Linked DNA regions of Homo sapiens. The protein of the gene in region 1 purifies or fractionates together with the protein of each later gene. This does not show direct contact. Each region holds a gene or a part of one and is shown on either strand. Other genes may lie near its edges.

Region 1 (3,810 bases):
GGAAAATTCTGTATAATCCAGAAAAAAATGTAAGGTTTTAAAAGATTCAGGGAACTAAGTAACCATTTGCACAGCAGCTAAATGCTCACCAGCATACCTGCTGAGCTGTGTGGGCACTGGCAGAGAAACTGAGGAAAGCTGCCAGGCCCCATGGTGTCCCAGGCCTTCCCTCCCGTCTGTTTGCCTTTAGAGCAAGATTAGTGCTATAGGCATTTATACACAAATACCATAATATGGCCCAAAATCTTTACAATTTTTGAATTTTTAAAGTACTTTGACCATATTTTGCTTTTATGTTAATAGTATTCCAGTGAAATTCTGTGCATGGGGACACTGGAGCCCAGAAAAGTTAAGTGACTCATATTTTCTCACCAAGCGTGGGTGATGGAGCCATTCAGTTTTCCGATATTTTATTTTTTATATGAGTATTCCTTTAACTGGAAACTTTCCTAACAACAAACACCTAAAGATGTGCAGAGTTGCTTTTATTTTTGTTACCCCAGCTCCACGCCTTAACCCTCACTTTGAAATAGGATGTATCAACCCTATTTTGCAGATGAGGAAAGCAAGAGTCAGAGAGGTTAGACAACTCTTCCAGAGTCACACAGCTGGGGAGTAGCAGCTCCAGGAGTAGAAGCTGGGGCCGCTTCCTGGTGCACCGATGGTCTGCAGGTGTTTGTGGAAACTCGGGGGCCTCCGGGGCGACCTTGAGGACATGGACAAGGCTAAGCAGGGGTTCCCTTCACCCAGCCCTGCCCTTGGTTTACTCAGGAGTCAGACCAGCCCTAGTTTCCTGTGTTTCATGTATTGGCTTTTCATGTGAAACTCGAGGAGAGCTTGTCCGTTGCCACAAGCTGTTTTTCGAATGTCTCTACACAGTCCAGGCAGGAAATAGAAGCACTCACATCAGGAGCTCAGTGTCAGGCAGGCAAGGCTCCTGCAGGGGAGCCCCGCCCTGCTCAGGTGGCCTCATCTCCCCTCCCAGCTGGTGGTGCTGCCCTATCAGATGCTGCTGCATGCGGCCACTCGGCAGGCCGCGGGCATCCGGCTGCAGGACCAGGTGGTGATCATCGACGAGGCGCACAACCTGATCGACACCATCACGGGCATGCACAGCGTGGAGGTCAGCGGCTCCCAGGTGTGTGGGCCTCCCCTCCCCGGGCCAGGGCCTGCTGTGACGTAAAGGGACTTGGATGGTTCCTCCAGACACCTGGGCCAAGAGTTCCTCCGGAGGTGGGGCTTGATAGAGGGTGCACGAGTCAAGGCGGTGACCTCATCGGAGGCTGACCATGGCTTTCCAGTGCATCGGGGGACCCCGCTATGACAGAGTGCCTCATTTCCCTGCACCTCATCTGCCCCCATGCTCCTGAGTCCCTCCAGCCCTGGATGCCAGCAGCCAGTTCTGTAAGCCAGGGAGATGGCATGTGTGAGGCAGAAGTCCCCTCAGGATTGGATTTTGTCATTACTGAAGTTGTCTGGAGGGGACTGAATTGAGGAATGCTCAAGATCAGCGCAGGCTCCTCCTGCTGCCCTATCATGCGCCATGCATGGCACCAGGTGTCTCTGGTCTTCACGCTGACTCTGCCATGGGTGTGGTGTTCCTGTTTTACATTGGAAACTTGGAGATTCAAAGATGGTCAAGCTCTGTCCTGAGGTCATGCAGCTCATGAGTGTGGAGCTGGGGTGTGCCCACTGGTTTCTGACTGTGAAAACCCCCACGACATCCCACCAGCTCTACTGACCTGTGCCTGGGCTGAATTGAGGCTGGGATGTGATGGTGGCCTTGAACCATCACTCTTTGTAGACTCCAGGTCTTTTCCCAACCCGGTGGAAACTTAGCAGGGAGATTCCATACTTGAGGAATTCAGCCTCTTGCTTTTTCTCTGACCCACAGTGGACACTGGAGGAAAACTTCCCTTCCTTCCCTTTTCTCTTAGCTCCCACCAGCCTAAGGGCTGTGGAAACCCGTACCTTTTGTCTGCAGCCAGCCCCCTCTCCTCCCTTTGGTGGCTTCCTGTGTGTCCAGGGCCAGCATCTTCTAGGTGAATCTAAGATGTCAGTACCTTAGCCCTCAGCTGCTTGCTCAGAGCCTGGTTTGTGTTCTTTCCCCAGCTCTGCCAGGCCCATTCCCAGCTGCTGCAGTACGTGGAGCGATACGGGTGAGATGTGACCCTCTGAGGTAGTGGGACAGTCCCTTGGTGGCCCCCTGCGTGGGCCTCTGAGAGGCAGGCAGCACTTTGGTTCCCACCTCTGGCCCGGGCTGTGGCGGGGTGGAGCTGCATGCCATTCATGTCCTAGGCACATCATGGTGTGTGCTGCACACAGACCTGGAAGGCTGGGGACTGACCGCTGGCTCTGAGGCCTGGGGCCGTGGCCAGCCTGCTCTCTGGGAAAGGATTTGTAGCTTGTGACCCAGTTTGAGAGGCACCGGGCAGCAAGGCTTCCACTGGGGTGGGCGGGGCGAGTCGCCATCAGGGCACCACCACTTAATGTCCGTTGGCTTCTTCTCAGGAAGCGTTTGAAGGCCAAGAACCTGATGTACCTGAAGCAGATCCTGTATTTGCTGGAGAAATTCGTGGCTGTGCTAGGGGGTGAGAGCCTCGTCCCCCTGCTGACCCCGGGCCTGCAAAACTCGCTGGGCTGCTTTTTCCTTGGATGCCCATCAGGACACCTCAGTTCTCTGTGTTTTTAAGAAGGGTCGGCCGGGTGCGGTGGCTCACGCCTGTAATCCCAGCACTTGGGAGGCCGAGGCAGGTGGTTCACCTGAGGTTAGGAGTTTTGAGACCAGCCTGGCCAACATGGTGAAATCCCATCTCTACTAAAAATACAAAAAAATTAGCTGGGAGTGTTGCCGTGGCCTGTAGTCCCAGCTGCTCCAGAGGCTGAGACAAGAGAATTGCTTGCTCAAACCCGGGAGGCGGAGGTTGCAGTGAGCCGAGATTGTGCCACTGCAGTCCAGTCTGGGCGACAGAGTGAGAATCAGTCTCAAAAAAAAAAAAAAAAAAAAAAAAGAAGGGTCTTGGTCATTGATTTAGAAAATTCTTGTTCTTTGTAGCTTAGTTGAGTTGTCTGACTTGAGCTTTATTTAGACCCATGGGTTCTTTGCCCATGTTCTGAGGACTTTTTATTTCAGGCCCTGCTCTGGGGGGATATTAAGGATACAGCATCACATAGACACACGGTGTTTCCGTGATAGGCATAGTTCTGTGGGTTGTTCGAAGCACTTGCATATGCGGTTTTGTGTGCCCTGTGAGAACGCAGTGCTGGTATTTGAATCCTTGTTGATAGACGCATAAACTAGAGCTCGGAGCAAGGGCTGCTCCCAGCACGGGAGCCTGGGATCTTCTGACTCCAGCTCCCACGCCTCTTTGCATGACCCTGTCACGTCCCCTTCTTTTATGATGGGGCACCCCCTTGGAAGGCGTCTGTGGAAGTGGAAGCTGCAGAAAGCCTGTGGGAGCTCCTGGCGGGAGCTGGTCTCGTGTTGCTGCTCTGAGCCACCAGCTCTGCTTTGCCTCAGGCTCACCAGTGGCCTGGGCAGCTCCTCTGTGCTCCGGTGCCCTGCATACCTTGGTCTGGCTGCTGTGTCCCGGCCTCCTGGAGAAGGGGTGAAAAACATGAACTTACAGGGCTTTGGGTTCCACGTGCAAGCACGTGAGTCAGACATGGGAGGCTCCTGGACCCACCTGCCCTCTCAGTGGGTCCGTTGCATGCTATAAACAGTGAAAAGCAAAACAAAGCCATTTAAATACAGATGCTCTTCTTACTTGATGTGCAGTGTGGAGGGAGAGAAGATAGGGAAGGGTTGGG
Region 2 (3,810 bases), on another chromosome or scaffold:
AGACTATGAATCTTCAGATGCCAATATCCTCCAGACATTTTCCCTAACTGAAGAATCAAGGAGTGAACAATATGCAGCTGTCCCTTGGTGTTCCTGGGGACTGGTGCTAGGCCCTTCCTCAGACACCAAAATTCACTTTTGCTCAAGTCCCTTATATGAAATGGTATAGTATTTGCATATTAACTTATACACATCCTCCAGAACACTTTATTTTTACTTTTATACAGAGATGGGGTTTCATTATGTCACCTAGGCTGGTCTCAAACTCCTGGACTCAAGCGATCCACCTGCCTCAGCCTCCCAAAGTGCTGGGATTATAGGCATGAACCACCATGCCTGGCCGGCCTTCCATACACTTTAAATATACAGGCTGAGTATCCCTTATCCCTAATGCTTGGGACCAGAAATATTTCAGATCTGGGTTTTTTTTTCACATTTTGGAATTTTGCATTATATTTACTGGTTGAACATCCCAGTGTAGTGGCTCACGTCTGTAATCCAAGCACTTTGGGAGGCTGATGCAAGGAGGATCGCTTGAGTCCCGGAGTTCGAGACCAGACTGGGCAACATAGTGAGATCCCGTCTCCACAAGAAAAAGCTGGCATGGTGGCATGTGTCTATAGTCCTAGCAACTTAGCAGGCCAAGGCAGGAGGATTGCTTGAGGCTAAGGGTTTGAGATCAGCCTGGGCAACATAGTGAGATCCCATCTCTACAAAAATTTTTAAACTTGAAAAAAGAGAAAAACTAGTTGGTTTTTTTTTTTTGGAGATGGAGTTTTGCTCGTCACCCAGGCTGGAGTGCTCAACGGTGCGATCTCAGCTCACTGTAACCTCCTTCTCCTGGGTTCAAGCAATCCTCCTGCCTCAACCTCCTGAGTAGCTGGGATTACAGGCACCCAGCACCACGCCCAGCTAAGTTTTGTATTTTTAGTGGAGACGGGGTTTCACCATGTTGGCTAGGATGGTCTCGAATTCCTGACCTCAGGTGATCTACCTGCCTCGGCCTCCCAAAGTGCTGGAATTACAGGTGTGAGCCACCATGCCTGGCTGAGAAGAACAGTTTTTGAAAATTTCCATGAAAACAAAAAAAATAAACCGGCAAGTTGACAAGTGAGCAACGCTCTTTCACTGGGAAGGGGTGGAGGAAATCACATAGCTGGCAAGGCTTCGCATACAACCCAATGCTGAGAAAGGTTGTTTCTGTAACAATTCTCAATGCAGAGCACCCGCCCCCCTACAGGTCTGACTCTAAGACCTACCTGTCATTTGAAGCATTGAGTTCCAACATGGCATCTTTGAGTGCTGGGCCCAGCAGGGCCCGGGCCAAGCACAGAATGCTTGTGGTCTTGCCGGTTCCTGGAGGGCCCTGGGAATGAGATCTCCAGTAAAGACTTCAAACCACCAGAAGGACCTCAGGTAGCTCTTGAGTTATGTTCACTGCTGTTTGCATCTCCGTCACCTCTGACCCCTGCATTCCACCCACAGCACACACAGATCAATACAGCTGGCCGGAGACAGTGGCTCACACCTATAATCCCAGCACTTTGGGAGGCCAAGGCGGGCAGATCACCTGAGGTCAGGAGTTCAAGACCAGACTGGCCAACATGGCGAAACCCCGTCTCTACTAAAAATACAAAACTTAGCTGGGCGTGATGGCAGGCACCTGTAATCCCAGCTAGTCGGGAGGCTGAGGTACAAGAATCGCTTGAACCTGGGAGGGAGAGGTTGCGGTGAGCAGAGATTGCACCACTGCACTCTAGCCTGGGTGACAGAGTGAGACTCCGTTTCAGAAAAAAAAATAAATAAATAAATAAAAAAAAATACAGCAACCAACCCCAGGCCTCCCAACTAGAGTGAAACACTTCCCTTTGCCGGGGGAATGGGAAGGGGCTCTCCAGGGAGGCAGCGCTGTGCACAAGAAAGCAGTTCAGCGGACAGTGGGATGAGACATGGAGACACTCAACAGGCCCAGGGCTGGGTACTCACCGCAATGATGATGTTGGGCACATTTCCTTCCCTTGCAAAGACCTACGGCGAAAATGATCATTAAAACCGGTTAAAACTTGCTTCTGGATGACTACATAAAAAAGATAGAAAAAAGAACAAACAAGCAGGTTAAAACTCGGCTGAGCACAATGGCTCAGGCCTGTAATCCTAGCAGTTTGGGAGGCCAAGGCAGGACAATCACTTGAGGCCTGAGGCCAGCCTGGGCAACACAGTGAGACTCTGTCTCCTCAAAAAATAAACAAAATTAGCCAGGTGTGGTGGTGTGCTCCTGTACTCCCAGCTACTCGGGAGGCTAAAATGGGAGGATCGGTTGAGCCTGAGAAGTGGAGGCCGCAGTGAGCTGTGACTGCACCACTGCACTCCAGCCTGGGAAAGAGTGGGACCCTGTCTCAAAAACAAAAAAAAAAAAACACAAAACCTGGTTAATTTGTAAGCTTTAGGAGCTGAATCTCCCCAGCTACACAGCCTGTGTAGTAAACGTGGCTACAAATTTATCCACATGGACTGGATGCCCCATGGAACTCTCACCTCAAGTTCTTTTTATTCTTTTAGAGATGCACTCTGGCTGTCACCCAGGCTGGAGTGCAGTGGTGTGATCAAGGCTCACCGCAGCCTCCAATTCCCAGGCTCAAGTGATCCTCCTGCTTTGGCCTCCCGAGTAGCTGGGACTACAGGTACTCACCTCGGCATCTTCAAAACTGAACACTTCATTCTCCTGTACAAACCTGAGGCCCCACCCATGTTTCCCACCATGGACTGTCTATGCCATGAAGTTGAGGTTGCCATCATCTTGGTTTGGCCTCATCCTCACCCTGAGTACTTCAATAACCAGGGCTTCACCATCCTCCTCCTTCGTCTCCAGCGTCCTTTACTTCTCTCCATCCCTTCTCTCCATCCCGGCTACCACTTTCTTAAGCCCATTATCTCGTCTGATTGCTATCAATGGGCCATTAAGTGGTCTCCATGCTCCCATTCAAATCCATTTCCCATCCTGTAACCACGACCACTTTCCTAAAGTACACACCTATTAAAACATTTTTTTTTTTGAGATGGAGCTTTGCTCTTGTTGCCCAGGCTGGAGTACAATGGCACAATCTCGGCTCACTGCAACCTCCGCCTCCCGGGTTCAAGCGATTCTCCTGCCTCAGCCTCCTGAGTAGCTGGGATTACAGACGCCCACCACCATGCCTGCCTAATTTTTATTTTTAGTAGAGACGGGGTTTTGCCATGTTGGCCAGGCTGGTCGTGAACTCCTGACCTTAGGTGATCCACTCGCCTTGGCCTCCCAAAGTGCTGGGATTACAGGTGTGAGCCACCACACCCGGCCCTATTAAAACATTTTTCCCTAACTGAAATCCTTGACTCCTCCCTGCCCTCACTATGAAGCCCAAACTCTTTTTGTTTCTCAAAGTAAGGGTGTCCACTCTGTCACCTAGGCTAGAGTGCAGTGGCGTGATCATAGCTCACTGCAGCGTCAAACTCCTGGGCTCAAGGGATCCTCCTGCCTTGGCCTCGAGTAGCTGGGATTACAGGCACTTGTCACCATGCCCAGTTTGAACCTCAGACTCTACAGGCATGTGCCACCACACCCAGCTCATTCTTAAATTTTTTCGTAGAGACTGGTTTCACCACATTGCCCAGGCTGATCTCAAACACCTGGCCTCAAGTAATCTGCCCGCCTTAGCCTCCCAAGGTGCTGGGATTACAGGTGTAAGCCACTGTGCCCAGCCTTAGGTCATCTTTTAAAAACCTACTCAAGGCCGCTCGTGGTGGCTCACGCCTGTAATCCCAGCACTTTGGGAG

What was found.
Region 2: the proteins of DDX11 (region 1) and RFC2 purify together in Homo sapiens (affinity purification with western blotting, with the first as the bait; one study listed by BioGRID). This does not show direct contact.

What each region holds. Positions count from the first base shown.
Region 1 is NC_000012.12:31,090,734-31,094,543, forward strand, and holds part of DDX11 (ATP-dependent DNA helicase DDX11), read left to right. Parts: intron 1-985; coding exon 986-1,138; intron 1,139-2,112; coding exon 2,113-2,159; intron 2,160-2,511; coding exon 2,512-2,591; intron 2,592-3,810. UniProt on the Homo sapiens protein: DNA-dependent ATPase and ATP-dependent DNA helicase that participates in various functions in genomic stability, including DNA replication, DNA repair and heterochromatin organization as well as in ribosomal RNA synthesis.
Region 2 is NC_000007.14:74,247,753-74,251,562, forward strand, and holds part of RFC2 (replication factor C subunit 2), read right to left. Parts: intron 2,029-3,810; coding exon 1,987-2,028; intron 1,469-1,986; exon of another isoform or gene 1,367-1,468; coding exon 1,260-1,366; intron 1-1,259.